Regions from separate parts of the Homo sapiens genome. Here regions 2, 3 and 4 are each linked to region 1. Evidence: fine-mapped expression QTL. A gene starts in region 1. Each other region holds a variant in brackets. All regions are shown on one strand. Distances are from middle to middle. Region 1 holds the start of CCDC66 (coiled-coil domain containing 66). Region 2 has its middle 16 kb from the start of TASOR. Region 3 has its middle 44 kb from the start of CCDC66. Region 4 overlaps CCDC66 (coiled-coil domain containing 66).

The links.
Region 2: its variant is fine-mapped to the expression of CCDC66 in whole blood (TOPMed, PIP above 0.99).
Region 3: its variant is fine-mapped to the expression of CCDC66 in monocytes (BLUEPRINT, PIP 0.95). The same link has a PIP of 0.9 or more in subcutaneous fat.
Region 4: its variant is fine-mapped to the expression of CCDC66 in whole blood (INTERVAL, PIP 0.93).

What each region holds. Positions count from the first base shown.
Region 1 is chr3:56,552,103-56,560,314 of GRCh38, forward strand. CCDC66 (coiled-coil domain containing 66) reads left to right here and starts at 5,073. Exons shown (of 18, transcript NM_001141947.3): 1 at 5,073-5,151; 2 at 6,744-6,808; 3 at 7,467-7,492. The coding sequence starts at 5,141. RefSeq lists enhancers at 4,516-5,188, 5,189-5,860, 5,329-5,488.
Region 2 is chr3:56,694,980-56,703,191 of GRCh38, forward strand. No RefSeq gene overlaps it. Among named protein-coding and RNA genes, the nearest start is that of TASOR, 16 kb to the left of the region's middle. The variant A/T (reference allele first, on the strand shown) is at 3,789.
Region 3 is chr3:56,508,941-56,517,152 of GRCh38, forward strand. No RefSeq gene overlaps it. Among named protein-coding and RNA genes, the nearest start is that of CCDC66, 44 kb to the right of the region's middle. The variant C/CTT (reference allele first, on the strand shown) is at 3,667.
Region 4 is chr3:56,593,908-56,602,119 of GRCh38, forward strand. It overlaps CCDC66 (coiled-coil domain containing 66), which reads left to right. Exons shown (of 18, transcript NM_001141947.3): 10 at 37-121. Among named protein-coding and RNA genes, the nearest start is that of CCDC66, 41 kb to the left of the region's middle. The variant TTTTTA/T (reference allele first, on the strand shown) is at 4,434.

The DNA of each region.
Region 1 (8,212 bases):
CTGGGTAATTTATCAAAGAAAGAGGTTTAATTGACTCATAGTTCAGCATGGCTGGGGAGGCCTCAGGAAACTTACAATCACAGTGGGAGGTGACAGGGAAGCAAGGTGCCCTCTTCACAAGACAACAGGAAGGAGGAGGGCTGAGCAAAGGGGGAAGAGCTCCTCATAAAACCATCAGATCTTGTGAGAACTCATTCACTATCACAAGAACAGCATGTGGGAAACTGCCCCCATGATTCAACTACCTCCACCTGGTCTCTCCCTTCACACATGGGGGTTATGGGGATTATGAGGGTCACAATTCAAGATGAGATTTGGGTGGGGACACAATATCAACATGTATCCACTATTACAGTATCATACAGAGTAGTTTTACTGCCCTGAAAATCCTCTGTGCTCTGGCTATTTATCCCTCCTTCTTCCAATCCCTGGCAACCACTGATCTTTTTACTGTCTCCATAGTTTTGCCTTTTCCAGAATGCCATATAATCGAACTCATACAGTTTGTAGCCTTTCCAAATTGGTTCTTTCACTTAGTAATAACAATTTACATTTTCTCCATGCCTTTTCATGACTTGGTATCAAGCTCATTTTTTCTTAGTTCTGAATAATATTTCATTGTCAGGATGTGCCACAGTTTATGCATTCACCTACTGAAGGACATCCTGGTTGTTTTCAAGTTTTGACAATTATGAATAAAGCTGCTATAAACATCCATGTGTAGGTTTTCCTGTGGACATACATTTTCAACGCCTTTGGATAAATACCAAATAATGCAATTGCTGGGTCACGCACATGGTAGGAATATGTTTAGTTCTGTAAGAAACCACAAATGCCAGGTACAGTGGCACATGCCTATAATTCCAGCACTTTGGAAGGCCGAGGCAGGTGGATCCCTTGAGCTCAGGAGTTCAAGATCAGCTTTGGCAACATGGCAAAAGCCCATCTCCACAAAAAAATACAAAAATTAGCTAGGCATGGTGGCACACGCCTGTAGTCCTAGCTACTCAGGAGGCTGAGGTGGGAGGATTTCTTGAGCCCAGCAGTTCAAGACTGCAGTGGGCCAAAATCACGCTACTGCACTCCAGCCTGGACAACACAGTGAGACCCTGTCTCAACAACGAAAACAAAAAACTAAAAGAAAATCACCAAGATGTCTTCCAAGTGGCTACACCATTTTGCATTCTCACCAACAATGAATGAGATTGCATCCTCACCAGCACTTTGTGTTATCAGTGATCTAGAGTTTGACCATTCTAATAGGTGTGTAATAGTATTTCATTGTTGTCTTATTTTGCATTTCCTGATGACATATGACATATAGCATCTTGCATATGGTTATTTGCCATCTGTATTCAGCATCTTTTTAGGTGAGGCATTCATCAAGGTCTTTGGCTCATTTTTAAAATTGGGTTGTTTATGTTCTTATTGTTGAGTTTAAAGATCTTTTCTTATATTTTGAATAACAGTCCTTTATCTGATATGTCTTTGGTAAATATTCTCTCTTAGAATGTGGCTTATCTTTTCTTTCTCTTATCGGTGTCTTTTACAAAATGGAAAATTTTGATTTTAATGAAGTCCAGCTTATCAATTCTTTCTTTGATGGATCATGCCTTTGGTGTTGCATCTAAACAGTTATCATCATATGATGTTAGCTGTGGGCTTGTTAAAAAAAAGTTATCATCAAACCCAAAGTCATCTAGATTTTCTCCTATGTTTTCTTCTAGGAGTTATACAGTTCTGCATTTTACATTTAGGACTCTGTTCTATATTGAGTTCATTTTTGTGAAGAATGCAAGGTTTGGGTCAGACTAATATTTTTGCATGTGGATATCCAATTGTTCCAGCACCATTTGTTGAAAGATAATCTTTTCTCCTTTGTTTTGGCTTTACTCCTTTGTCAAAGACCGGTTGACTATTTATGTGGGTCTATTTCTAGGCACTCTGTTTTATTATTTATCTATTTGTTTATTCTTTCACTAATACTACACTGTTTTAATTACTGTAGCTTTATAGTAAGTCTTGATGTCGGGTAGTGTCAGTCTTCTGACTTTGTTCATCTTCAATATTGTTTTCGCTGTTCTGGGTCTTTTGTCTCTCCATATAAACTTTAGATTCGGTTTGTTGATATCCACAAAATAACTTGCTGGGATTTTGATTGGCATAGTGTTGAATCTATAGATCAAGTTGGGAAGAACTGACACCTTGACAATATTGAGTCTTCCAATCTATAAACACAGAATATCTCTCCATTTATTTAGTTCTTTGATTTCTTTCATCAGAGTTTTGTAATTTTCCTCATATAGATTTTATACATATATTGTTAGATCTATACCTAAGCATTTGATTTGATGGGATGCTAATGTGAATAGTATTGTTTGTTTGTTTGTTTGTTTTTGTGACGGAGTCTCTCTCTGTTGCCCAGGCTGGAGTGCAGTGGTGCGATCTCGGCTCACTGCAAGCTCCACCTCCTGGGTTCAGGCCATTCTCCCGCCTCAGCCTCCTGAGTAGCTGGGACTACAGGCGTCTGCAACCACACGCAGCTAATTTTTTGTATTTTTAGTAGAGACGGGGTTTCACCGTGTTAGCCAGGACAGTCTCGATCTCCTGACCTCGTGATCCGCCCGCCTCAGCCTCCCAAAGTGCTGGGATTATAGGCGTGAGCCACCGCGCCTGGGCAGTATCGTGTTTTTATTTTCAGCTTCTATTTGTTCATTGCTGACATACAGGAAAGCAATTGGCTTTTGTGTATTAACCTTGCATTCTGCAATGCCACTATACTCACTTATTAATTCCAGGAGGATTTTTTGTGGCTTCTTTCAGATTTTCTACATAGACAATCATGTCATCTGCAAACAAAGTTTTCTTTCTTTCTTCCCAGTCTGTATACTTATTTCTTTTTCTTGTCTTAGCTAGGACTAAGGCTAAGTCTTAGGATTAGCTCAGACTTCCAGTGTGATGTTGAAAAGCAGTGATAAGAAGAGACATTCTTGCCTTGCTCTTGTTCCCAATCTCAGTGGAAAAGTTGCACTTTTTCACTGTTAAGTGTGATATTGGGCTCTACAGGATTTTTTTAAAAAATAGAGATAGAGTCTCACCATGTTGCCCAGGCTGGTCTCGAACTCCTACACTCAAGCAATCCTCCTGCCTTGGCCTTCCAAAGTGCTGCAATTACAGGCATAAGCCACCACACCCGGTCTCTAGGAGATTTTTTGTAGATATTGCTTATCAAGTTAAGGACGTTCTCCTATATTGAGAGATTTTAAGAAGCAGAGTGAATTAAGCAGATTCACATTTTAGAAATCATTCTGGCTACAGGCTCACGCCTATAATCCCAGCACTTTGGGAGTCTGAGGTGGGAGGACTACTTGAGGCCAGGAGTTTGAGACCAGCCTGGGCAACGTAAACAGACTCTGTCTCTACAAAAATTTTTTTAAAAATTAACCAGGCGTAGTGGTGCATGCCTGTAGCCCTAGCTACTTGGGAGGCTGAGACAGGAGGATCATTTAAGACCAGGAGTTCGAGGTTACAGTGTTATGTTCGTACCAATGTAGGCGGCCTGGGTGACAGAGCAAAACCCTGTCTCTAAAAAAAAAAAAAAAAGAAAGAAAAGAAAAAGAAAAAGCAAGTGTTGGGGTGAAGAAATTAGAACCTCATATACATTGCTGGCAGAAATGTAAGATGCTGCAACTGTTATGAAAACAGTTTGGCAGTTTCTCGAAAAGTTAACCATAGAATTACCATGTGACCCAGTAATTCCACTCTTAGGTGTATACCAAGAAAATTGAAAATAGGGATTCAAACAGATACTTGTACATCAGTGTTCACTACAGCATTATTCACAATAACTAAAAGATGGAAACAACCCAAATGTCTATTAATGGATGAATGAGTAAACGAATTGTGGTATATATATACATAGAATGGAATACTATTCAATCATAAACAGATATGAAGCTCTGATACATCCTACAACATGGATGCACCTTGAATACATTATGTTACTTGAGAGAAGACACAAAAGGACAAATATTGTATGATTCCACTTTTATGACATGAAGTATCTATAATAGGCAAATTCCTAGAGACAGAAATAAGATTAGAGGTTTCTTAGGATTGAGGGGAGAGGAAAATGGGAAGTTGTTGCTTAATGGGTACAGAATTTTTATTTGGGGGTACTAAAAAGCTTTTGGAAAAATATACTGGCGTATTCCACAACATTGTATCATGGAATTGTCACTTGAAAATGGCTAAAAATAGCAAATTTTAACACACATATTACAACAATAAAAAATAAAAAAGTAAAGGTTTGTCAGGCATTTAATAATTAATACCTTTCATTGTTTTTGTCTGGAAAGAGTGTGTGCAAAGATACTTAACAACCAAATGTAATGTGTGATCCTTGATCGGCTCTTGCATTTTTTTTTTTTTTTTTTGAGACGGAGTCTCACTCTGTCGCCCAAGCTGCTGGAATGCAGTGGCGCGATTGGCTCTTGCTTTCTAAATAAAATGCCTATAAGATATTCTTAGGACAAGTGGGGGAAATTAAATCGGGAAGAGAATTATTATGAAATTAATGATCTTAGGTATAATAATTGTACTGCGGTTATGTAGCAGAACATCTATTCTTAGGAGATACATGCTGCAATGTTAAAGGGTTAAGTGTTACAATGTCTGCAATGTTAAAGGGTTAAGTGTTACAATGTCTGTAACTTACTTGCAAATGGTGACCCCAAAAAGGTGTGTGTGTGTGTGTGTGTGTGTGTGTGTGTGTGTGTGTGTGTGTGTGTGTGTGTGTGTGTCTGTGTACGCGCTTTGGAAGGCTACAATTGCGAGAAGCGCAGGTCTCCGCCACCGAAGCTTTAGACTCATAAGCCGGGTCAGGCCAAATTCCGCTGTGCGTAGGGGAACAAACGGCACAAACGGGGCACAAAAGGGGAACAAACGGCATACGCAACCGTCCCCGCGGGAGCCCCGGCCCAGCTCAGCGCACCCGCCAGCATGCCCCACCCTGATTGGTCCACTTGCTCAGCTCGCCGGCACCCCTATATCCAATTGGCGTAGCGCTTGCTGAGCGGCGGCGGCAACCGACGTACACAAGGGGCTTGAGCGTTCTGTGGAGAGAGTGCGAGGTCAGGCCATGAACTTGGGGTAAGCAGGGGTAAGCTGGGGTAAGCTGGGGTAAGCAAGGTGGTCGTCAGCGGAGAGGGAGGCATGTGTGTCTGGGTTGTCCCTTGGAGTCTTTACTGGAGAACGTTCCCAACCTGCGCCGCCGAGAGGGGCAGAGCCCAGTTCTCGGGTAGAAGATCGAGGCAGATGGGTCGGCCCTTAGCGACTCCACAGACCTTACGTTTTCACTTAATGACTAGCATTAAAACTGCCAGTGATCCCCTTTCGGTCCCTTATTTACCTCAGGATGAGGAGGGAAGAGAGGTGAGGAGGAAAGGAGAGAAATGACGAGACAGTTAGAGGAAGCGTGGCGGCTCCTGGGGAGGACTCCTGGCCCATGCCCCGGGTTCTTCGCCACCTTGTTTTTGGAGTCTTGCAGAATGTTGAAACGCCCAAATTCGTTTTAGGCCCACGAGGCGGGGAACCAGGCTTCTCAAGAAATCGATGTAGTACCAGTGCCTAACACCTAGTAGGCGCTCCTTAAGTAGGGGTGAATAAATAAAAAGGGCTGGTGCATGGTCTTCATCACTCGCAAGTTTGATATTTTGAGAAGATGAGAAGCCACCAAACTCAGACCTAACTACACATCGTTCAGCAAATGTTATTATGTTTTAGAATCTGGGGATATGGAAATAAATAAGATAGTGTGTCCCTTAAGGAGATTACAGTGCAGTGCGTCATTGAAGGTACTTTACCATTGAAGCTCTTTTCTTTCTTGGTGACGTTTCACCAACATAAACACGAACTGTTCATAACCCTACAATAAGGAAAGCCGTAAAACCTATTCTTTCCAGTGTTTTACCTTTAATAGTTAAGGTGAGGTAATTTGATTTCCCCTACCTGAGCAACACCGCAAATTTCGCATTCCTAATCAGACCTTTCCCAGCCTCTCTCTCCCTTGACTGGCTTGCTGGATTTAATTTTCTCTCTCTGAATTATGGACTGTATGTATGGGCTGCCATTTTTGTTCTCAGTGGAGTTTTAGGACCTTAACAGACGTTCAAGTTTTGTTGGCAGTGGCTACTGTTACTTTATGCCTTTGCTTCTGATATGCACGTATAAAGCACCATACTAAATATCACTATGTATTATTTGAAATATTGAAAGTGGTACTCTTTGCTCAAGCAGTTACTAACCTTGATGGCATTGTTAGTAGTCATATCGATGCTCCAGCACTCCATAGAATGTTTTAGTCATGAGTTCATTATGAAACTAATGAATGGCGGTTAAATATATCTTGTTCCTTTAACTTATGTGAGGAGTTTTGGTAACAGCATTATTAAAAAATGGTGGTATGATAACTTAATTTATAGTTTACCAATAACAAAATGAGATTTCAGGTTAATGATAACAATGCTTGTAGTATTGAAGAGTTTCAAGAATTTTCCCCCTGTAGTTGTGGGTTTTATCTTGGATTGCAAACGTTTTTAATTAAAACACTGGTTCGATGTGTACAAGATTCCTGCATAAATTCAAAATAATGGATTTATTGTCAGGTTCAAATGAACATTTCTGGTTATTTAAAATGTTGCGGTTTGTTAAAAATGAGAGACAACTTTCTTTTTTTATTACAGAGATGGTTTAAAGCTTGAAACTGAATTACTGGATGGAAAAACCAAGCTAATATTGTCTCCATATGGTATGTTGTGTTACAGAAATCTGAAATGTTAACTTTTAAATTCATACATAAAATTTATATTAGTTCAACAGACTTTTTGCTTGTAATAGAGTGATATTTAAATGATATTTTAGAAAAAGCTGTTTCCTCAAACTTCTGCAGATTTCCTTCTAGCCAAATAAAATCAGATTACAACACTGCTTACTACTGTCAGTATTCAGACTCATAACATTTAATGTTCCAGTATATTGCGTGTTCATTATATCCATATAGCAAATATCCTCATTGCCTGATGAATAATACAAGTAAAATTTATGTAATTATGTTCTTTGCATGTAAAGAATGTATCATTTGAGAAAAGTTTATAGTAAGACCACCGTAAAATGCTAAAGTCACTTTTAGTATTCGTTTTTAAACTCAGTGTACTTTGGTACCTTCTCCTTCGCATTTTTTTTTCTGTTTATAGTTTTACCTTGGAAAGATAAAAAACAAAAATAAAATAGAAGTAAATCCTTGAACTGGATTAGAAAAAAATACTCAGTCAAGATCTAAAGTTTATGCTTTCGAGGATAATGTTGCTAGCTTAAAATCTTATAACAATATTAATTACAGTTTTCTTGCATTACCACCTTAGTATGCTTTTGGTGGATAGTTTAGTAATTTCTTTTTTCTTTTGTAGAACATAAATCAAAAATTTCTGTGAAGGTAAGCCGTATAACTTTGACCTGACCTGTTTTCAAATGTAAAATGCAGTTTTATTTATAGTGGTTAGAAAATAATTCCTGGGAAATGTCAAGTGTTCTAAGGGGTTTGGAATTATAGTGAGGAGTTATTATTTTCTTGCTTTCAGATTGGTCCTTTCACAGAAATTGAATCATTTTAGGTTTAGCCCAATAGAACCTCTTTCTCTAGATAAGTGCTATTCAGTAAAGCATCTGTGTTAATGGAAGTGTTCATTAATAAAATCAGTATTATTGAATATGGAAGCCACTAGTCATGTATAGTTATTGAACCCTTAAAATGTAACTAGTATGACTGAGCAACTGAATTTCTAATTTCCTTTAATTTTTAATGGAATTTAATGGATAATGGATTGTACTGGACAATGCACTCCAGAGATCTTTAAAAATAGATATTCAGACTTTAAACAGAAATGTTTTTTCTTTTCATACTCAAATTCCATTTGCCCACACCAAAGGGGAAATTTAATTCACAAATTGTAGCATGCATTTAGCATTTTCCTTTAAAAGGTTGCACTTGAGCTTAAGGGTAATTTTCCTTTTAAATTATTTTCCCTTATCAGAAATCTATTGTGCTTTTTTCTACAAAATACATTATCACTTTGTTTATTTTAATTTTTGAGGCAGAGTCTCACTCTTGTCACCCAGGTTGGAGTGTAGTGGCATAATCATGGCTGCAGATCTT
Region 2 (8,212 bases), 140 kb after region 1:
ATCTGAACAAAGATCTAAATTTATACTAACTTCACGTTGTGGTTGGTGGAGCTCTGTAAGTAAGAAGGAGGCTGGTGCCAACAATCCAAGTTACACAAAGAGAAAAAAAATGCTCAAGAGGAAGTGGTACACTACAAAAGTGCAAACGTAGGTGGAATGTGTGAAAAAAAAAATTTTCAAATTAAAAGTGTCTTCGATTTTATGTTTTTATGATAAAAGAGGCCAAAAGAAAGTTGTCTGGAACTTCCTATTTTCAAGATAACCCATCTCAGCACTCAATTTGGAAGACAGTGAATAAGTTGGAGGAAAAGAAGTAACAATACAGAGAGAACATGTGAATAACACCTTGCAATTTACCAAATGCTTCACTTATTCTCTCAACCTGCTACCAGGCCCTAAGATGGGCTTCTGAGGTTACAGCTGTAAACAAGCAGATCCATCCTGACCCTGTTTGTTTTCTGATGCTTCTATACCCATTGCCTCATTTAATCTTCCCAGCATTGTCAGAGAAACATTGTTACATTTGTCAGATGAGGAAATGGTAACTTAACTGCCTTGCTCAAGGAAACATCACCAGTAAGTGAGGGAACAGGACTCAGATTTGCCTCCTAAATCTAATTGCAAACCCTTGCAACTACCCCAGTTCTACTTGCTTATAGGCCTCTGGGATGGCTACTTTGTTAATCAAGACTCTCAATGGAAATCAAGAAAAATTACAAAGTTACCCACTGGGCATTTTAATCATTCCTCTATGTATCATTTCTCTCCCTTGTTTTGTCCTTTCATTTTTCTGAGTGAACAGGAATATTCCCACCAACTCCCTTAAAAACACAAGTTTCTTCACTAATTTCTCGTAGCTCCTACAGATTTATATATGATTTCTGGGCAGACAGAAGTAATCAAAGTCATCCAATTTCTTTGGCTGACCAATAACTAAATTGAGAGCTGCTTCCCTTTTAAGTCACATGATTCAGGTTATTGTTTTATTATTTGGTGCTTCATAGTACCAGAAAGGTATTCAGACTTAATTTTGGACATTTTCTCCCCAGTCCATAAAAGCCTGGTAATAAAAAGATATTTGACATGACCTTTTGCTATATGGTTGGTGCTACAAAATGCTGATTTTAAGAGAAATTAGCAAAAGTACATCAACATATGAAGAGATGAACAAGATATCTTACATTTATACAATGGAATATTATTTGTCCATAAAAAGGAGTGAAGAACTGATACATCCTGCAACATGGATGAACCTGGAAAATACTGTGCTAAGAAAAAGAAGCCAGTCACAAAATGCTGCATATGGTATGATTCTGTTTATAGGAAATGTCCAGAACAGGGAAATCAATACAGACAGAAATTAGATCAGTGGTTTCCTAGGGCTAGGTTAATGAGGGAATTTGGGGATGATAGCTAAAGGGTACAGGTTCTTTTTAAGGTGATGAAAATGTAGTTGCATAATTCTGTGATTATCTTAAAGACGATTGAATTGTATGCTTTAAGTCAGTGAATTGTATGGTGCATGAATTATATCAATGAAACTTTTTTTTTTCATGTCTGACGGGTAATGTGCTGAAATTTATGAACTACCAAAGGATCTAAAACCGGTTTTTTATTATTTTTTATTTTTATTTATTTATTTAATTTTTTTGAGACGGAGTCTTGCTCTGTAGCCCAGGCTGGCATGATCACAGCTCACTGCAAACTTGAACTCCTAGCCTCAAGTGATCCTCCCACCTCGGCCACCCAAAGTGCTGGAATTACTTACAGGCGTGAACCCCCACACCCAGCCTTAAACTGTTTTTTAAAAAAGGAGGTTGATATAGTGTTCCACTAATAGCTTGGGGGAAATTCTTTCTCAGGTATATAATACAGGAAGTTATTTGACAGGCAACTATGCTTAAATTTATGTTAATTGTGTAGAAAGAACTGAGTAAATCATTTCCTGTTTTCTCTCCACCTGCCCCCACCAAAAAAAGAAAAGAAAAAATTCTAAATTTGACCAATACAATAATAGCAAGATAACGCAAAGATTACAATGGGATATGGCCTGGGTCAATTAAAGCACCAGCAATTGGCATTGGACCCTCCACCTTATGCATGTCTATATCCAGCCATGATGTGAATATGTGAGTAGCAAAAGTGCTAGCTGTGTCTTTTCCTGATTTTTTTTTTTTTTTTTTTTTTTTTGAGATGGAGTTTCACTCTTGTTGCCCAGGCTGGAGTGCAATGGCGCCATCTCAGCTCACTGCAACCTCCACTTCCCAGGTTCAAGTGATTCTCCTGCCTCAGCCCCCAGAGTAGCTAGGATTACAGGCATGCGCTACCACGCCTGGCTAATTTTGTATTTTTAGTAGAGACAGGGTTTCTCCATGTTGGTCAGGCTGGTCTCGAACTCCCAACCTCAGGTGATCCACCCGCCTCGGCCTCCCAAAGTGCTGGGATTCCAGGCGTGAGTTACCGTGCCTGGCTCTTTTCCTGGTTTTTATATTTTAATGATTCGTATTAGAGTTAATTCACATTAACCCTCTTCAAAAAGAACATTAAACCTAAAGCCCAGTGACTTAACAACATTAAATATTCCAGATTCTTTTCCCCAAAAAGTTCCATTTCAACTCTTGGAAACAAAAAGTTAGATAATGGTTTGGCTTTAAATGCCTCATTTCAAATGTCCTTCCCCATAATACTCCCAAGTGAAAAAAATATTTTTTCCCAATTATTTTTTCATTTAATGTAAAACATTCCAGTTAAAAGAGATTCTCAAAAATAGAGCTTTACAAAAAATACGAGTTCAAGTTTCAGTACCCTACCCTTCCCCCACCCCCGGCCCAGTGGCTCTGAAAAGATAGGCAATTAATAATAAGTTTTTTCCTAAGAAATCTTTGGGGAACCAGCCAAGTTTAAATAGGGTAATTGGTAGGTCTATGGTTGCAATTTACATAAATTATAGAAACATAACACCAGACATTTATCTAATTGAAGAAAATGTGGTGTTCAGTTACTTATCTAGAGGAATTCTACTTGCAGTTTGTGCCATTTGGTGATTAGTCCATTCTCTTGAGAATCTGAGTTGCTCTAGAGACAGAATATATGATAATAATGGTCCAAAAAATCAGTTTTGCTTACTTAGCAACAACAAAAAATATATATTAAAAATAAAATACTATTCATATACATTTCCTTGATAAAAATAGTATTGAAATAGTATAAATCCATAATTCCTTTAGAAGATGCTTATCCACATTCCTGTTAGAGATGTGGAGTAGTTAACACTCACCAGATGATGCTCTCCTTCCTTCCTTCCTTCCTTCCTTTCTTTCTCTTTCTTTTTTTTTTTTTTTTTTGAGATGGAGTTTTACTCTTGTCGCCCAGGCTGGAGTGCAATGGCATGATCTCGGCTCACTGCAACCTCTGCCTCTTGGGTTCAAGTGATTCTCCTGCCTCAGCCTCCCGAGTCTGGGACTACAGGTGTGCGCCACCACACCCTGCTGATTTTTGTAGTTTTAGTAGAGACGGGGTTTCACTATGTTGGCCAGGCTGGTCTCGAACTCCTGACATCAGGTGATCCACCTGCCTCAGCCTCCCAAAGTGCTGGGATTACAGGTGTGAGCCACCGCACCCGCCAATGCTCTCCTTTCTTTCAGTGCTAAAGAACTCTTCACTCTCTTAATCAATCTGTTATTACAAGTCCTATGGCCCTTTGTTGAATTTCTGTTTACTAGAAATATAATAAGCAACGTAAGATATTTAATTTTGTCAAAGTCGTTCCAAATCTCTTATACTAAATA[A/T]GTATAAAGATACTATATATGTATATATATATGTGTATATATGTGTGTGTGTGTATGTGTGTGTGTGTGTGTGTGTGTGTGTGTGTGTATATATATATATATATATATTTTTTTTTTTTTTTTTTTCCACCCAGGCTGGAGTGCAGTGGTGAGATCACAGCTCACTGCAGCCTTGACATCTCTGGCTCAGGTGATCCTCCCACCTCAGCCTCCCAAGTAGCTGGGACCACAGGCATGCACCACCACCCGGGCTAATTTGTATTTTTTGTAGAGATGGGATTGTGCAATATTGCCCAGGTTGGTCTGGAACTCCTGGGTTCAAGTGATCTGCCTACCTTGGCCTCCCAAAGTGCTGGGATTCCAGGTGTGAGCCACCATGCCCAGCCTGATAATAAGCAAAATTCCACTTCCCTAGTGCTACAGACTAAATTTTTATGTCCCACCCAAATTCATATGTTGAAACTCTTAGGATTTCACCATCCTTGATAATTGTCAGATAAAGAAGTAGGACCTTTGGGAGGTAACTAGGTCATGAGGGTGGAGCCCTCATGCATGGGATTAGCGTCTTTATAAAACAGACTTCAGAGAGCCCCTTTACCCCTTTAGCCATGTGAGGACGCAGTGGAAAGATGGCTGTCCACGAATGAGGGAGTGGTTCCTCACCAGACACTGGATCTGCCAGTGCCTTGATGTCAAACTTCCCACCCTCTAGAACTGTGAGAAATAAGTGTTTGTTGTTTATAAGCCACCAGCAATATGGTACTCTGTTACAGCAGCCCAAACTGACTAAGACATCTATTTCTTACCTGAAGGAGTTTGAAGTGGGGTCAAATGCAAGTTTTACATTCTTTTAAATGTAAAAGCCTGGGCGCAGAGGCTCATGCCTGTAATCCCAGCATTTTGGGAGGCTGAGGCAGGCGGCCATCACGAGGTCAGGAGTTCGAGACCAGCCTGACCAACATGGTGAAATCCCTGTCTCTACTAAAAATACAAAAATTAGCCGGAAGTGGTGGTGTGTGCCTGTAATCCCAGCTACCTAGGAGGCTGAGGCAGAAGAATTGGTTGAACCTGGGAGGCGGAGGTTGCAGTGAACCGAGATCACGCCACTGCACTCCAGCCTGGGCAACAGAGTGAGACTCCGTCTCAATTAAAAAAAAAAAAAAGACAAAATAGCATACAATTCTGTCTCAAAGCCTCAAGTACCTTTAACTACAGTCTGTCTACAATAACCTAAGACATTCAAAAGACAGGAGAATGCTCATACCCTCATGCTGGGACACTGATAATCTGGAGCTTACTACATTGACATCACTGGCACCCACTTACTAAACACATGCAATTACTTAGCAATTAGTTCTTGAACAATTTGTGTTTGCTAAGAACTATATCTGACCCAGGGAATAAAACATAAGACACAGTTCCTGCTTGTAAATACACTAGCAAAAGAGAAGAAGACTATCTTGTAGAGACTAGCTGAGTCAGTGAATGTCAGAGATGAAGAGGAAGGGCAATGGCATGAGTGGAATTCCAGGTAGAGAAACGGTGAGAGAAAAAAAGAACAAAGATACCAATGTGAGAAACAAAAAGGTTTCTGCAGCAGGGAAGCACAGTTGGCTGTTGTGGTATACAGGATGAGGCGGCAAGTGGAGAGGCGGGCTGGTCTGAAGGCTCTAGCTGAATCACAGAACATATGCCACATTAAGGGATTTGGATTTAATCCTGATGCAAAATATAAGAAGTTAAGGATTTTAGGTAGAAGCTGACCCAATCAGTCGTGCATTTTAGACAGATCATTCTGGGTTTCTTTGTTGTTTTTAACTTTTCATTTCTTTCTCTCTTTCCTTTTTTCTTTCTCTTCCTGTCCTTTCTTTCTCCTTCCTTCCTTCTCCTTCCTTCCTTCATTCCTTCTCCTTCCTTCCTTCCTTCCTTCTTTCTTCCTTTCTTTCTTAGGGTCTCACTCGGTCACCCAGGCTGGAGTGCAGTGGCACAATCACAGATCACTGCAGCCGAAACTTCCAGGGCCCAAGCTATCCTCCTACCTCAGCTCCCCGAGTAGCTGGGACCACAGGTGTGTGCCACCACACCCAGCTAATTTTCTTATTTTTTGCAGAGACGGGAGTCTACCTGTGTTATCAGGCTGGTTTCGAACCCCTGGGCTCAAGCAGTCCTCCCACCTTGGCAACCCAAAGTGCTTGATTACAGGTGTGAGCATTCTGGTTCTCGTTATAGAAGGTGGATTTTAGGTGGATTGGAGTCAACAAAACTACTTAGGACATTGTTGCAAAAATCTAGGTAAGGATGGCTTAGAACTTCTCCATCCTTGGTCATTGTCAGCCTAGATACAAACTGAGGTTGCACTACAGTGTGAGAGAATTTCAAAGAAGCAGGAAAGAAGTAGAGATGGGTTTTACTAAAGTACTAGTAATCACAGTTACTAAAGGATGCTGTTGTTTTTCCCCCACTCCCCACCACATTCTTTTTTTAACATGTCAGTAATTTATAACTTTCTGAAAGGACCAAATAATAAACCATAAAATGATGATGCCAGGTGTTTTGTTACGTGTTTTTGTTGTTGTTGTTGTTGTTGTTTTGAGATGGAGTCTCACTCTGTTGCCAGGCTGAAGTGCAGTGGCTCGATCTTGGCTCACTGAACCTCCGCTTGCCAGGTTCAAGCGATTCTCCTGCCTCAACCTCCCAAGTAGCTGGGATTACAGGCACGCGCCACCATGCCCAGCTAATTTTTTTGTATTTTTAGTAGAGATGGGGTTTCACCATGTTGACCAGAATGGCCTCAATCTCCTGACCTCGTGATCCGCCCGCCTTGGCCTCCCAAGTGCTGGGATTACAGGCATGAGCCACCATGCCAAGGTGTTTTAATTGTTTTTGGTGTTTTGTTTTGTTTTGTTGTTTTGTTTTGTTTTTGAGACTCTGTCTCTCAGGCTGGAGTGTAGTGGCAAGATCTAGGCTCACTGAAACCTCTGGCCCCTGGGCTTAAGCAACCCTCCCACCTCAGCCTCCCAGGTAGCTGGAACTATGCAGGTGAGTACCACTGCACCCAGCTAATTTTTGTATTTTCTGTAGAGATGGGGTTTCACTCTGTGGCCCAGGCTGATCTTGAACTCCTGAGCTCAAGCAATTCACCCAGCTTGGCCTCCCAAAGTGCTAGAATTACAGGTGTTTTAAAATAAGCCAAATAAAGGATATAAACACTTCCAATTCATAATTCAGATGTAGAGGACCTTACAATAGTTAACAATTTTCAAGCTAAAAATCACATCATCTATAAAACATTATAAGTGTTTTCCTTATTGAAATGGTTTAGCGGAAGGCCGTAGGGCTTGAAATGGAGTGACGGAACACAAACATGTAAGAACAGATAAGAAGAGTGGATGGTTAGTTTAGGAAGGTTTTCCCTTTCCATTCCAAGACTAGATTCTGGCAATATCTGGTATGTCAAACTAAGATATGTAACATTTAAATACACAATATTATTTTTATTGTGAAAATAGTTTAAATATGTTTAGAATATAAAATTTGGGCTGGGCATGGTGGCTCACACCTGTAATCCCAGGACTTGGGAGGCTGAGGCGGGCGGATCACCTGAGGTCAGGAGTTCAAGACCAGCCTGGCCAACATGGTGAAACCTTGTCTCCACTGAAAATACAAAAATATAGCCAGGCATCATGTGCGTGCCTGTAATCCCTTGAACCCGGGAGGCGGAGGTTGTAGTGAGCTGAGATCTTGCCACTGCACTCCACACTGGGCAACAAAGTGATATTCCATCTCAAAAAAAAAAAAATTGTGCCAGACGCTTGCAGAACGCCTGAGACACCTCCATGAAATTCTAACAATGCATACTAAATGCTTTATAATCCTTCTGTTGAAAACCAGACATTCAAGAGCATACAGCTTAATTCCAGCAGAGGGCAGCAAAACTTCACTAAGCAGTTTTCAAAACCCTAGCAGCTTTTCTGTATTACCTAATAATATTTTTAAAATATTCCCCCAGAAGAGTTCTGTAGTTCCACAACTACAATCTCATAGTATTTGTGGAATTACAGTATTACCATACTTATATTTAGGCAGGACAGAATTCTTCCCAGAGTTCAAAGACTGCGGAAGGCTCTTAGATGGATAGGACCTGGGGCAATGCCAAGAGGGAATAAAGACGAGCCACAATGTCTTACTGGGGTCATCTGCCTGGTGGTTTTCCAACTCTTTTACAAAGAGTCATGATTTAAGGTACAATGGGATTCTTTTAAAAAATATGTTGTCACTGCAGGTATGGTGGCCCATGCCTGTAGTCCCAGGCACTGGGGAGGCTGAGGTGGGAGGATCACCTAAGCCCAGGAGTTAAGAGTCCTGCCTGGGCAACATAGTGAGGCTGCATCTATAAAAGCACGCATATATATGTATATGTGTGT
Region 3 (8,212 bases), 43 kb before region 1:
AGCACTTAGGGAGGCCAAGGTGGGTGGATTCCTTGAGCCCAGACGTTCAAGACTAGCCTGGGCAACATGGCAAAAGCCTGTCTCTACAAAAATACAAACATTAGCCATGTGTAATGGCGTGCGCCTATAGTCCCAGGTACTAGGGAGGCTGAGGTGGGAGGATCTCTTGAGTCCGGGAGGTTGAGGTTGCAGTGATCCATGGTCATATCACTGCACTCCAGCCTGGGCAACAAAGCAAGACTCCTTCTCAAAAATAAATAGGCCAGGCGTGGTGGCTCACGCCTGTAATCCCAGTATTTTGGGAGGCCATGGCAGGCGGATCACAAGGTCAGGAGTTCGAGACCAGTCTGGCCAACATAGTGAAACCCTGTTTCTACTAAAAATACAAAAAATTAGCAAGGTATAGTGGTGTGCACCTGTATCTCAGCTACTTGGGAGGCTGAGGCAGGAGAATTGCTTGAACCCAGAAGGCGGAGGTTGTAGTGAGCCAAGATCGCGCCATTGCACTCCAACCCAGGCAACAGTGTCAGACTCTGTCTCAAATTAAATAAATAAATAAATAATAAGTAGGGCGGGGCGTGGTGGCTCACGCCTGTAATCCCAGCACTTTGGGAGGCTGAGGCGCGCAGATTGCGAGGTCAGGAGATCGAGACCATCCTGGCTAACATAGAGAAACCCCGTCTCTAATAAAAATACAAAATAAAATTAGCCGGGCGTGGTGGCGGGCGCCTGTAGTCCCAACTACTCGGGAGGCTGAGGCAGAAGAATGGCGTGAACCCGCGAGTGGAGGTTGCAGTGAGCCGAGATGGCGCCACTGCACTGCAGCCTGGGGGACAGAGCGAGACTCTGTCTCAAAAATAAATAAACAAATAAATAAATAAATATTAAAAGGGCAGGCCGGACATGGTGGCTCATGCCTGTAATCCCAACACTTTGGGAGGCCGAGGCGGGCAGATCACAAGGTGAGGAGATCGAGACCATCCTGGATAACACGGTGAAACCCCGTCTCTACTAAAAATACAAAAAATTAGCTGGGCGTGGTGGCGGGCGCCTGTAGTCCCAGCTACTCCGGAGGCTGAGGCAGGAGAATGGCGTGAACCCGGGAGGCGGAGCCTGCAATGAGCTGAGATCGCACCACTGCACTCCAGCCTGGGCAAGAGAGGGAGACTCGGTCTCAAAAAAAAAAAAAAAAAAAAAAAAGGCAAAAGATCTGAATAGACATTTCTCAAAAGAAGACATAGAAATGGACAAGAAGTGTATGAAAAAATGTTTAACATCATTAACCATCAGAGAAATGCAAATCAAATCTGCAATGAGATATCATCTCATCCCAGTTAAAATGGCTTTTATTCAAAAGACAGGCAATAACAAATGCTGGCAGGGATGTGGAGGAAAGGGAACCCTCGTACACTGTCGGTGGGAATGTAAATTAGTACAGCTACTGTGGAGAACAGTATGGAAGTTCCTCAAAAAACTAAAAATAGAGCTACCATACGATCCAGCAATCCCACTGCTAGGGATATATCCAAAAGAAAGAAAATCAGTATATCGAAGAAATATCTGCACTTCCATATTTATGGCAGCACTATTCACAATAGCCAAGATTTGGAATCTAAATGTCCATCAGCGGATGAATGGATAAAGTAAATGTGGCACATATACACAATGGAATATTATTCAACCATTAAAAAAGAAGATCCTGTCATTTACAACAGCATGGATGGAACTGGAGGACGTTACGTTAAGTGAAACAAGCCATGCACAGAAAGACAAATTGTGCATATTCTCATATGTGGGAGCCCACTTAGCCCCTGGTAATATATATTGTTAAAATTAAAACAATGGATCTCACGGAAATAGTAGAATGATGGTTACCAGATGCTGGGAAGGGTAGTGAGGATAAACTGGGGAAGGTTAATGGGTACAAAAATATAGTTAGATAGAATAAATAATTCTAGAATCTGGTAGTATAACAGGTGACTATGGTCAATAATAACTTATTGTATATTTCAAAACAACTAAAAGACTGAAATTGGAATGTTCCTAACACAAAGAAATGATAAATACTTAAGTAGATGGATACCCCAATTACCCTGATTTTATTGTTACACATTGTATGCCTGTATCAAAACATTACATGTGCCCCATAAATGTATACACCTATTATACACCAATGATCATTAAAAAATAAAAAAAAATCAAGGTGATAAACCTAATCCTTCTGAAACTCATTTGGAAGGAATGAAAGATCAAGGACCCCAAGGTTGTGAGTACGTACAGAAGCAGTATAGTAATTGGTAGGTATGTACTGCTGCATTTTCCCTATGCAGTCAGTGATACCTATTGGATATCTACAAAGCATCTGTCACAAGAGACGACAGAGGAGAAGTTTAACATACTTCTTTAAAGAACTTCATTCTGGCTAGGCGCAGCGGCTCGTGCCTGTAATCACAGCTCTTTGGCAGGCCGAAGTGGGAGGATTGCTTGAACCCAGGAGTTGAGGCTGCAGTGAGCTATGATTGCATGACTGCACTCCAGCCTAGGTGGCAGAGTCCCTGTCTCAAACAAATAAACTTCATTCCATTTGCACAGTTAAGACAAACACATGTGAAGTAGTATATATACTCGGGAGCTAAGTGGGGCCTAAAAAATGTAATTTAATCCTGTCAACCAGCCTGTAAGGTAGGGATGGCTGTCCCCATTATGCTATTGAGGAGACAAAGCATAGAGAGACTAAACTAGTTGCCCATGTAACACAGTTCATGTGTAGGAGTGTCAGGGCTATACCCACATTCATCTGATCCTGAAGTCCATTCACAGACCCACCAGAGCTTACTGCTTCCAAATCAAGAGGACACAAACAAGGGCCAAATAAACCAGGAAACATTATATGAAGCAATGGGACTTACGCCTGACCTTGAAAGGCAAGCAACAGTTGGACAGGCAGAAACTAAAAGATATGACACCATAAGATGCAGGAAAGCATGCACAAAAGCCCAACTGTGAGATTTAGCTTAATACAAGAGGACTAGGAGAGCAGGGAGGTAGTGACTGATTGATGGGATGAAGCACAAAAACAGGAGGAGGTGGGAGCAGAGGTGACTTGAAATCACATGGGGCCAGTGGCAGGTGTGAGGAGAGTTTGAACATGGTGTGATGGGCAGTAGAGAACCATGGGACTTTTAGGAGCATGGAAGTGATATCAAAAATCACAATTTAGTGCAGTAATTCTTAACCACAGGCAATTTTGCTCCCCAGGGGCACATGTGGCAATAGCTGGAGACACTTATGGTTGTCACAACAGGGGAAAGCATCTAGTGGTCAGAGGCCAGGGATGCTGCTAAACACTGTACAATGCACAGAACAGCCCCCACAACAAAGAATTATCCACACAAAATGACAGTAGTAACAAAGTTGAGAAACCTGGCTTTAGGAAGATAGTCTGGCAGTGGCTGCCAAGATGGAACAGAGAGAAGAAGTCAAGAGCCCAGGGGAGATGTTCATTCGGGGAGATGCTCATTCAGGGAGATGGGAGTGAGATGAGGGACCAGAAGGGGAGAATGGCAAACCCTCCAAGTATTTCAAAGGAAAAAGAAAGATGCAATTTCTAATCCCTCTTACAGGAAGTTTTCTACAAAATGTGGAAAACTGCACTTAAGACTTTTT[C/CTT]TTTTTTTTTTTTTTTTTTTGTGATGGAGTTTCGAGCCCAGGCTGGGGTGCAATGGTGTGATCTCAGCTCACCGCAACCTCTTCCTCCCAGGTTCAAGCGATTCTCCTGCCTCAGCCTCCCAAGTAGCCGGGATTACAGCCATGCGCCAGCTTGTCCGGCTAATTTTGTATTTTTAGTAGAGATGGGGTTTCTCTGCGTTGGTCAGGCTGGTCTCAAACTCCTGACCACAGGCCCACCTCGGCCTCCCAAAGTGCTGAGATTACATGCGTGAGTCACCATGCCTGGTCAAGACTTTTTTCTTTTAAATCATCTGAGGGCACCTTATTTTCTGATCTAAAAAATTGTAAATAATACACAACTCCAAGAAAATCACCACCTCGAGAGTGTAGGGCACAAACCTTTAACTATTATCAGTAACATTTTCTGTCTTTTTGTTAGAACAGAATCTGAAGCAAATTTGGCAAAATGTTAACATCTGTTAAATTTGGATGATGGGTACGTGGTTGTCTGTAATATTATTTTCTATACTTTATAGATACTTGAAAATTCTCATGATTAACAAAAAACAGGGTGGGGGAAGAAAGAAAAAGAAAGTCTTAGAGGGGCAGTTAATAACTTATACTAGAATTTTTCTTGGTATTTTAAAATATCATTTGTTAAATTACAGAAGTTATATGTGAATATGTGTTCATTGTAAAAACCATTCAACAATACAAAAATAAAAATAAAAAATAGAAATTCCCCTTTCATTCTATTTCTTTTTCTCTCTCCTTAGGTTACTACTGCTACATGTTAGTGTGTGTGTGTGTGTGTGTGTGTGTGTGTGTGTGTGTGTGTGTATTGTGTATATATACACATTATACTACATATATATGTATATATAGTATAATACATATATTATACTATATATGCATATATAGCATAATACATATATTATACTATATGCATATATAGTATAATGTATATGTATATAGTATATGTATATATACTATACATACTATTGTATACATATATAGTATATATACTATATATTGTGTGTATGTGATATATATACTATATACATTAATGTATATTATATATTATATGTATTATACTATAAACATTAATGTATATTATATATTATATGTATTATACTATAAACATAGTATAATACATGTATTATAGTATATAATACATGTATATACATAGTATAAACATGTATTATAGTATATAATACATGTATATACATAGTATAAACATGTATTATAGTATATAATACATGTATACACATAGTATAACACATGTATTATAGTATATAATACATGTATTATACATAGTATAATACGTGTATTACAGTATATAATACATGTATACACATAGTATAATACGTGTATTGTAGTATATAATACATGTATACACATAGTATATACGTGTATTGTAGTATATAATACATGTATACACATAGTACATACGTGTATTGTAGTATATAATACATGTATACACATAGTATATACGTGTATTGTAGTATATAATACATGTATACACATAGTATATACGTGTATTGTAGTATATAATACATGTATACACATAGTATATACGTGTATTGTAGTATATAATACATGTATACACATAGTATAAACGTGTATTATAGTATATAATACATGTATTATACATAGTATAACACATGTATTATAGCATATAATACATGTATTATACATAGTATAACACATGTATTATAGTATATAATACATGTGTTATACATAGTATAACACATGTATTATAGTATATAATACATGTATACACATAGTATAACACATGTATTATAGTATATAATACATGTATACACATAGTATAACACATGTATTATAGTATATAATACATGTATACACATAGTATAACACATGTATTATAGTATATAATACATGTATACACATAGTATAACACATGTATTATAGTATATAATACATGTATACACATAGTATAACACATGTATTATAGTATATAATACATGTATACACATAGTATAACACATGTATTATAGTATATAATACATGTATACACATAGTATAACACATGTATTTTATAGTATATAATACATGTATACACATAGTATGACACATGTATTTTATAGTATATAATACATGTATACACATAGTATAATACATGTATTATAGTATATAATACCTGTATACACATAGTATAATACATGTATTTTATAGTATATCATACATGTATACACATAGCATATACGTGTATTGTAGTATATAATACACGCATACACATAGCATATACGTGTATTATAGTATATAATACACGTATACACGTAGTATATACGTGTATTGTAGTATATAATACACGTATACACGTAGTATATACGTGTATTGTAGTATATAATACACGTATACACGTAGTATATACGTGTATTGTAGTATATAATACACGTATACACGTAGCATATTACATGTATTATAGTATATAATACAAGTATACACATAGCATATTACATGTATTATGTACATAATACACGTATGCACGTAGCATAATACATGTATTATGTACATAATACACGTATGCACGTAGCATAATACATGTATTATGTACATAATACACGTATGCACGTAGCATAATACATGTATTATGTACATAATACACGTATGCACGTAGCATAATACATGTATTATGTACATAATACACGTATGCACGTAGCATAATACATGTATTATGTACATAATACACGTATGCACGTAGCATAATACATGTATTATGTACATAATACACGTATGCACGTAGCATAATAAATGTATTATGTACATAATACACGTATGCACGTAGCATAATACATGTATTATGTACATAATACACGTATGCACGTAGCATAATACATGTATTATGTACATAATACACGTATACACGTAGTATAATACATGTATTATAGTATATTATACATAGTATAATACATGTATTATAGTATATTATACATAGTATAATACATGTATTATAGTATATTATACATAATATAATACATGTATTATAGTATATTATACATAGTATAATACATAGTATAATACATGTACTATATATATACATGTATAGTATAATACATGTATTATACTATATATAGTATATATTACATATATTATACTATATATGTATATACAGTACACATATACAGTATAATACATATATTATACTATATGAAGTATATATAGTATACATAGTATAATACATGTATTATAGTGTACATATATACATATATACTATGAACATATATGTATATATAATACATAATACATATATACTATATATGTTATATATACACACTAACATATATATACTAACATTAGTATATTACTAGTATATTACCATTAGATATATACTAATATTAGTATAACATTAGTGTGTGTGTTTATATGTATACACACACATTCACTAACAGTGTGTATACATATGTGGTGTGTATATACACACACACACTAACATTAGTGATTGTGTATATATATTGATATGATTCGTCTCTGTGTCCCCACCCTAAATTTCATCTAGAATTGTAATCCCAACATGTCGAGGGAGGGACCTGGTGGGAGGTGACTGGATCATGGGGGTGGTTTTCCCCATGCTGTTCTCATGATAGTGAGGGAGTTCTCATCAGATCTGATGATTTGAAAGTGGCAGTTTCCCCTGCACACTCTCTCTCCTGCCACCATGTAAGACATGCCTTGTTTCCCCTTCTCCTTCTGCCATGATTATAAGTTTCTTGAGGCCTCCCCAACCATGTGGAACTGTGAGTCAATTAAACCTCTTTCCTTTGTAAATTACTCAGTCAGGTATACTTTATAGCAATATGAAAATGGAACACATAAATATAGTCACATGGAATAATATCTTATATATGTGTGTGTGTAAATACATATATATGCCCCTAATTATTTTCCTACGCATTCGTAGAAAGGAAAGAAGGGAGGAAAGGGGAGAAAGGGAAGAAGGGAGGGAAGAAGAGAGAAAAAGAGATTTATGAGATATCTAGATAGATATCTAGATAGCTATCTACCTATCCATCTATCTTATGAGGGACCACAACACACAGGCAACATGATTTTCACATTAACACATTTTAGAGGGTTGCTCTTCCGTGTCAATTTATAAAGATCTACCTCTTTCTTTTTACTTCTTCAGAATATTTCATAGTGTAAATGTACCATAATTTGTTTACTACTAAGATTGCTATATATTTAGGTTGATTCCAATGTTTTGCTATTTCAAACAATCCTGGAACATACAACTTTGTGTTCGTATATAAGAATTTTTGTAGGGGAGATTCCTAGAAATACAATTTTTGGATCAAAGGGTATATACATTTCTGGTGTTGATATACAGTAAGATTGTGCCCCCCTGCAAAAAAACCGTGGGCTCCTCATTTCTCTAAACCCTCACTGATGCTGTATGCAATCAACCTTTAAACATTTTTCCACAATTACCAAAACTGCATCCAAAAACTACTCCACAGACATATTCACACTTATGGGAAGTCATGAATGTACACTGCACTGTTAATGGAAAAATACTGAA
Region 4 (8,212 bases), 42 kb after region 1:
TGAGGTTTTGAATAGCTAATGTATGTATCTTGCCAGCTTTCTCCGTTCTATGACTGCTCTCTTGGACCCAGCTCAGATTGAGGAACGAGACAGACGACGACAAAAACAATTAGAGCATCAGGTATTGCATTGTTAAACATTGTTCTTTACCTTAATAAGTAACAGTCATGGTGAACATATACCTAAGTAAATGGAAATTTAAATTCTGATGTAAACTTTACAGCATAGGTCCTGTCCAGTTGTGTCACGAATCCAATCCCTACCACAACTGGCATTGTAATATTAGAATTAGCTTATCAAATGCTACAGCCACCTGCCTTCCAGTACAGAAGGTCTTTAATATATTAAGTTGTATATGTGAATTTGTGTTGTCTTAGGTTAGTACTGGTTTTTTTTTTTTTCATCAATTTATTTCTCCTGAGTTCTGTTTAAGATGAGAATTCATTCTTTGAATAGGGATTGAACTAGAATTATGACTAAGAAATCTAATGCATAATGGCCGGGCACGGTGGCTCACGCCTGTAATCCCAGCACTTTGGGAGGCTGAGTGGGCAGATCACGAGGTCAGGAGATCAAGACCATCCTGTGAATGGTGAAACCCCGTCTCTACTAAAAATACAAAAAATTAGCTGGGCGTGGTGGCAGGCGCCTGTAGTCCCCAGCTACTCGGGAGGCTGAGGTGGGAGAATGGCATGAACCTGGGAGGCAGAGCTTGCAGTGAGCTGAGATTGTGCTACTGCACTCCAGCCTGGGCGACAGAGTGAGACTCCATCTCAAAAAAAAAAAAGAAATCTAATGCATAATATAAGAAAGGAGGCTAAAATTAAAATTAAAACTTCCTGTCCTGATTTTAGCCTAATGCTAAAGGGACTTTAATATCTGCATAATTCTTCAAATCCTTTGATATATGAATTTGGCATCATTAATGTTATGCTTAGTCAGTGAGCAGACATTTGCAGAGCATCTGCTACTTAACAGGCACTATGCTAAGCACTGAGATTATTTCTTCAGTTTTTTTTAATACCATTTCCTCCAGTAGCCCTCCTAGGGTTGAAGAAAAGGCATGTAGAACTTGACAGTACAAATGGGAGATGGGAGAAATGCATTGGAAATTTGACATTTCCACTTCACTTATATAAATAATACTTTCAGTATGCTGATAAAAACTTATTTCTACAGTCACCAAACTAATGCTTCATGGATTTTAAAAATTGATATATAATGTTTTATATATTTATAGGATACATATGATATTTTGTTATATATGTAGAATGCGTAATGATTCAGCCAGAGTATTCTGGTATCTATCACCTTGAGTATTTATCATTTCTGTGTTGGGAACATTTCAAGTTTACTAGCCAATTTGAAATATATAATACATTGTTGCTGACCATAGTCACCTTACTATTGCTATCAAACATTAGAACTTATTCCTTTCATCTAACCATATGTTTGTACCCATTAACCTACCTCTCTTGATCACTACCACCCTCACACACACCCTTCCCAGCCTTTGATACCTATCATTCCATTCTTTAGCTCGTTGAGACCTACTTTTTTAGCTCCCACATATGAGTGGGAACATGTGATGTTTATCTTTATATACCTGGCTTATTTCACTTAACATAATGACGTCCAGTCCCATCTGTGTTGCTGTAAATGACAAGATTCTATTCTTTCTTTATGGCCAAATAGTATCCCATTGTGTATATACCACATTTTGTTTATCTATTTGTTCATCAATGGACACTCAGATTGTAAATAGTGCTACAGTTAGCACAAGAGTGCAGGTTTCCTTTTGATATACAGATTTCATGTTCTTTCGATAAATATCCAGTACTGGGAATGCTGGATCATATGGTAGTTCCATTTTTAGTTTTTTGAGACGTCTCCATACTGTTTTCCATAGTGACTGTATTTATTTACATTCCCACTAACAATGTATAAGGATTCCCTTTTCTCCGCTTCCTTGGCAGTATCTGTTAGTTTTTGTCTTTTGGTATGTTTGTTTGTTTGCTTGTTTTTGAGACAGGGTCTTGCTCTGCTGCGCAGTCTGGTATGCAGTGGCATAATCATGGCTCACTGTAGCCTCATACCCCTGGGCTCAAGCAATCCTGCTGCCCGAGCCTCCCCAGTAGCTGATATTACAAGCATGCGCCACCATGTCAGGCTAATGTTAATTTTTTTCTTTTATAGAGACACAGTCTCACTATGTTGACCAGACTGGTTTCGAGCTCCTTGCCTCAAACAGTCCTCCAACCTCAGCCTCCCAGAGTGCTGGGATTACAGGCATGAGCCACCGGGCCCAGCATTTTTGTCTTTTTAGTAATAGCCATTCTAACTGAGGCGATATGATATCTCATTATGGGTTTGATTTGCATTTCTGTGATTAGTAATGTTGAGCATTTTTTCATGTACCTGTTTGCCATTTATATGTCTTCTTTAGAAAAATGTTTATTAATGTTCTTTGCCCACTTTTTAATGGAATTATTTGGATTTTTGGTGTGTGTGTGTGTTTAGTTTGAGTTTCTTAGGCATTCTGGATAGTAGCCCTTTGTTGGATGAATAGTTTGCAGATATTCAAACTACTGAATATGCAAGCTATTGAATATTCAAACTACTGAATATTCAAACTGGGGGACAGACTGTCTCTTTCACTCTGGTTATTGTTTCCTTTCCCGTGCAGAAGATTTTTAGTTCAATGTAGCCCTATTCGTATGTTTTTGGTCCCTGTGTTTTTGAGGTCTCGACCACAAACTCTATACCAGTGTCTTGAAGTGTTTTCCGTATGTTTTCTTCTAGTAGGTTTACATTTTTGGGTCATACATTTAACTATTTAATCCATCTTGAATTTTTTTTTTTTTTTTTTTTGAAGTGGAGTCTCAGACTGTCACCCTGGAATGCAGTGACGTGATCAGCTCACTGCCGCCTCCACCTCCCAGGTTCAAGCAATTCTCCCTGCTCAGCCTCCTGAGTAGCTGGGATTACGGGTGCATGCCACCACACCTGGCTAATTTTTTTTTTTTTTTTTTAGTACAGATGGGGTTTCACCATGTTGGCCAGGCTGGTCTTGAACTCCTGACCTTAAATGATCCACCTGCCTTGCCCTCCCAAAGTGCTAGGATTACAGGCATGAGCTACCACACCAGCCCTTGAATTGTTTTTTGAATATGGTGAGAGATGGGGCTCCAATTTCATTCCTCTGCATATAGATATCCAATTTTCCAAGCATTATTTATTGAAGAGTGTGTGCTTTCCCCAACTATGTTCTTGACACTTTTGTTGAAAATCAGTTGGCTGTAAATACATGGATTTATTTCTGGATTCCCTATTCTGTTCCATTGATCTATATGTCTGTTTTTATACCAATACCATGCTGTTGTGGTTCCTATAGTCTTGTAATGTATTTTGAAGTCAGGTAGTGTGATGCCTTCAGCTTTGTTCTTTTGATCCACCTTGATTTGGTTATTACGGCTCTTTTTTGGTTTCATAGAAAGTTTTGAATTTTTTCTACTTCTGTGAAAAATGAAGGTGGTATTTTGATAGAGATAGCATTGAATTTGTAGATTGCCTTAGGCATAATTCTTCTGATCCATGAACATGGGATGTCTTGCCATTTGTTTGTATCCTCTTTCGTTTATTTCATCTGTTTTGTAGTTTTTTATGTAGAAATGTGTAACCCCCTTGGTTAAATTTATTCCTAGATATTTTATTGTTTTGTAGCTATTGTAGGTGGGATTGCCTTCTTTATTTCTCAGCTAGTGTATAGAAATGCTACTGATTTTTGTATGTTGATTTTGTATTCTGCAACTTTACTGAATTTATTGATCAGATGTGAGGTTTTTGTGGAGTCTAGGTTTTGTTTTGGGGTTTTTTTTTTTTTTTGAGACAGAGCCTCGCTCTGTTGCCTAGGCTGGAGTGCAGTGGCGCGATCTCATCCCACTGCAACCTCTGCCTCACAGGTTCAAGCGATTCTCCTGCCTCAGCCTTCCAAGTAGCTGGGACTACAGGCATGTGCCACCGCACCTTGTAATTTTTGTATTTTTTTAGTAGAGATGGGGTTTCGCAGTGTTGGCCAGGCTGGTCTCGAACTCCTGACCTCAGGTGATCCACCCGCCTTGGCCTCCCAAAGTGCTGGGATTTCAGGCATGAGCCACTGTGCCAGTGGAGTCTAGGGTTTTTAAGATATAAGATGATAACATCAGCAAAGGGGACGTTTTGATTTTAGTTTGTTTTGTTTTGTTTTGTTTGTTTGTTTGTTTGTTTGTTTGTTTTGAGACAGCTCTGTCACCTAGGCTGGACTTCAGTGGCACAATGTTGGATCACTACAACCTCCACCTTCTGGGTTCAAGCAATTCCCATGCCTCAGCCACCCAAGTAGCTGGAATTACAGGTGTGTGCCACCATGCCTGGGTAATTTTTGCATAGGGGAC[TTTTTA/T]TTTTATTTTATTTATTTTCTATTTTATTTATTTTATTTATTTTCTAATTTAGGTGCCTTTTATTTATCTTGCCTGGTTGCTCTGGCTAGGACTTCTGTTGCTATGTTGAATAAGAATGGTGAAAGTGGGCATCCTTGTTTTGTTTTAGCTCTTAGGGGAAAGGCTTTCAGCTTTTCCCCATTAAGTATGATGTTAGCTGTGGGTTTGTCATATATAGTCTTTATTATTTTAAGGTATATACCTTCTGTGCCTAGTTTGTTGAGAGTTTTTATTATTTAGTGATGTTGAATTTTGTGAAATGTTTTTTCTTGTCTACTGAGATGATCATATGGTTTTTGTCTTTCATTCTGTTGATGTGATGTATCACATTTATTGATTTGTGTATGTTGAATTCTGCCTGCATCCCTGGGATAAATCCCACTTAATTATTGGGTATTAGTTTTCTCATGTGCTGTTGGATTGAGTTTGCTAGTATTTTGTTGAGAATTTTTGCATCTATGTTCATCAAAAATAGTGGCCTGTAATTTTCTTTGTTCTTTTTTGTTGTGTCCTTCTCTGGCTTTGGTATCAGGGTAATGCTGGCCTCACAGAATGAGTTAGGGAAAATTCCCTCCTCTTTGATTTTTTTGGAATAGTTTGGGAAGAATTGGTTAGTTCTTTGATAGTTTGGTAGAATTCATTAGTGAAGTTGTCTGGTCCTGGACTTTCCTTTGTTGGGAGACTTTTTTATTACCAATTCAGTCTTATTACTCATTACTGGTCTGTTCAGGTTTTCTATTTCTTCCTGATTCAATCTTGATAGCTTGTGTGTCTCCAGGAATTTATCCATTTCTTCTAGATTTTCTAGTTTGTCTGTGTGTAGTTGTTCATAATAGCCTCTGATGATCTCTTGTATTTCTGTGGTATCAGTTGTAATTTCTCCTTTTTTATTCCTGATTTTATTTGGGTCTTCTCTCTTCGGTTCTTGGTTAGTCTATCAAGTAGCTTATTGGTTTTGTTTATCTTTTAAAAAATCTTTGTTTCTTTGATCCTTTGTATTGTGTGTCTCTATTTTGTTTAATTCTGCTCTAGTGTTTGTTATTTCTTTCCACTAATTTGGGGTTTGTTCTTTTCTAGTTCCTTTTAGGTACATCATTAGATTGCTTTTTGAAATGTTTCCACTTTTTTGATATAGGCACTTATTGCTAAAATTTCCCTCTTAGCACTGCTTTTGCTGTATCCCATAGGTTTTGGTATGTTGGGTTTAAATTTTCATTTTTTTCAAGAATTTTTTTAAATTTTTTCCTTGACTGGATGCTTGTTCAGAAGCATGTGGTTTAATTTCTATTTATTGGTACAGTTGCCAGTGTTCCTCTCATTATTGATTACTGGTTTTGTTCCATTGTGGTTTGAGAAGATACTTGATATGAAGTCAGTTTTTTAAAGTTTGTTAAGATTTGTTTTGTGTCCTAACATATGATCTGTCCTGGAGAATAATCCTTATGCTAATGAAAAGAATGTGTATTCTCTTAACTGTTGGATGAGATGTTCTGTGTCCATGTGTTCTCATGGTTCAACTCCCACTTATGAGTGAGAACGTGCAGTGTTTGGTTTTCTGTTCTTGTGTTAGTTTGCTGAGAATTATGGTTTCCAGCTTCATCCATGTCCCTGCAAAGGACATGCACTCATCCTTTTTTATGGCTGCATAGTATTCCATGGTGTATATGTGCCACATTTTCTTTATCGAGTCTATCATTGATGGGCATTTGGGTTGGTTCCAAGTCTTTGCTGTAGTGCTGCAATAAACATACATGTGCACTTATCTTTTTTTTTTTTTTTTTTGAGACAGAGTCTTGCTCTGTCGCCAGGCTGGAGTGCAGTGGTGCAATCTCAGCTCACTGCGACCTCTGCCTCCCGGGTTCAAGTGATTCTCCTGCCCCACCCTCCCAAGTAGCTGGGATTATAGGTGCCCGCCACCGTGCCTGGCTAATTTTTGTATTTTTAGTACAGAGAGCATTTCACCATGTTGGCCAGGATGGTCTCAATCTCCTGACCCCATGATCGGGCTACCTTGGCCTCCAAAAGTGCTGGGATTACAGGCATGAGCCACCGCGCCCGGCTGCATGTATCTTTATAGTAGAATGATTTATAATCCCTTCGGTATATACCTAGTAATGGGATTGCTGGGTCGAATGGTAGTTCTGGTTCTGGATCCTTGAGGAATTGCCACACTGTCTTCCACAATGGTTGAACTAATTTACGCTCCCACCAACAGTGTAAAAGCGTTCCTATTTCACCACATCCTCTCCAGCATCTGTTGTTTCCTGACTTTTTAATGATCGCCATTCTAACTGGCATGAGATGGTATCTCATTGTGGTTTTGATTTGCATTTCTCTAATGACCAGTGATGATGAGCTTTTCTCCATATGTTTGTTGGCTGCATAAATGTCTTCTTTTGAGAAGTGTCTGCTCATAGTCCTTTGCCTACTTTTTGATGGGGTTGTTTTTTTCTTGTAAATTTGTTTAGGTTCTTTGTAGATTTTGAATATTAGCCCTTTGTCAGATGGGTAGATTGCAGAAATTGTCTGCCATTCTGTGGGTTGCCTGTTCACTCTGATGATAGTTTCTTTTGCTGTGCAGAAGTTCTTTAGTTTAATTAGATCCCATTTGTCAATTTCAGCTTTTGTTGCCATTGCTTTTGGTGTTTTAGTCATTTTGTCCATGCCTGTGTCCTGAATGATACTGCCTAGGTTTACTTCTAGGGTTTTTATGGTTTTAGGTCTTACGTTTAAGTCTTTATTCCATCTTGAGTTAATTTTTGTATAAGGTGTAAGGAAGGAGTCCAGTTTCAGTTTTCTGCATATGGCTAGCCAGTTTTCCCAACACCATTTATGAAGTAAGGAATCCTTTCCCCATTGCTTGTTTGTGTCAGGTTTGTCAAAGATCAGATGGTTGTGGGTGTGTGGTGTTATTTCTGAGGCCTCTCTTCTGTTCTATTCATCTATATATCTGTTTTGGTACCAGTACCATGCTGCTTTGGTTATTGTAACCTTGTAGTATAGTTTGAAGTGAGACAGCATGATGCCTCCAGCTTTGTTCTTTTTGGTTAGGATTGTGTTGGCTGTTTGGGCTGTTTTTTGATTCCATAGGAAATTTAAAGTAGTTTTTTCCAATTCTGTGAAGAAAGTGAGTGGTAGCTTGATGGGGATAGCATTGAATCTGTACATTACTTTGGGCAATATGGTCATTTTCACAATATTAATTCTTCCTATCCATGAGTATGGAGTGTTTTTCCATTTGTTTGTGTCCTCTTTTATTTCCTTGAGCAGTGGTTTGTAGTTCTCCTTAAAGAGGTCCTTCACGTCCCTTGTAAGTTGTATTCCTAGGTATTTTATTCTCTTAGTAGCAGTTGTGAATGGGAGTTCACTCATGATTTGGCTGTTTGTCTGTTATTGGTGTATAAGAATGCTTGTGATTTTTGCACATTGATTTTGTATCCTGAGACTTTGCTGAAGTTGCTTATCAGCTTAAGGAGATTTGGGGCTGAGACAATGGGGTTTTCTAAATATACAATCATGTCATCTGCAAACAGAGACAACTTAACTTCCTCTTTTCCTATTTGAATACCCTTTATTTCTTTCTCATGCCTGATTGCCTTGGCCAGAACTTCCAATACTATGTTGAATAGGAGTGGAGAGAGAGGGCATCCTTGCCTTTTGCCGTTTTTCAAGGGAATGCTTCCAGTTTTTGCCCATTCAGTATGATATTGGCTGTGGGTTTGTCATAAGTAGCT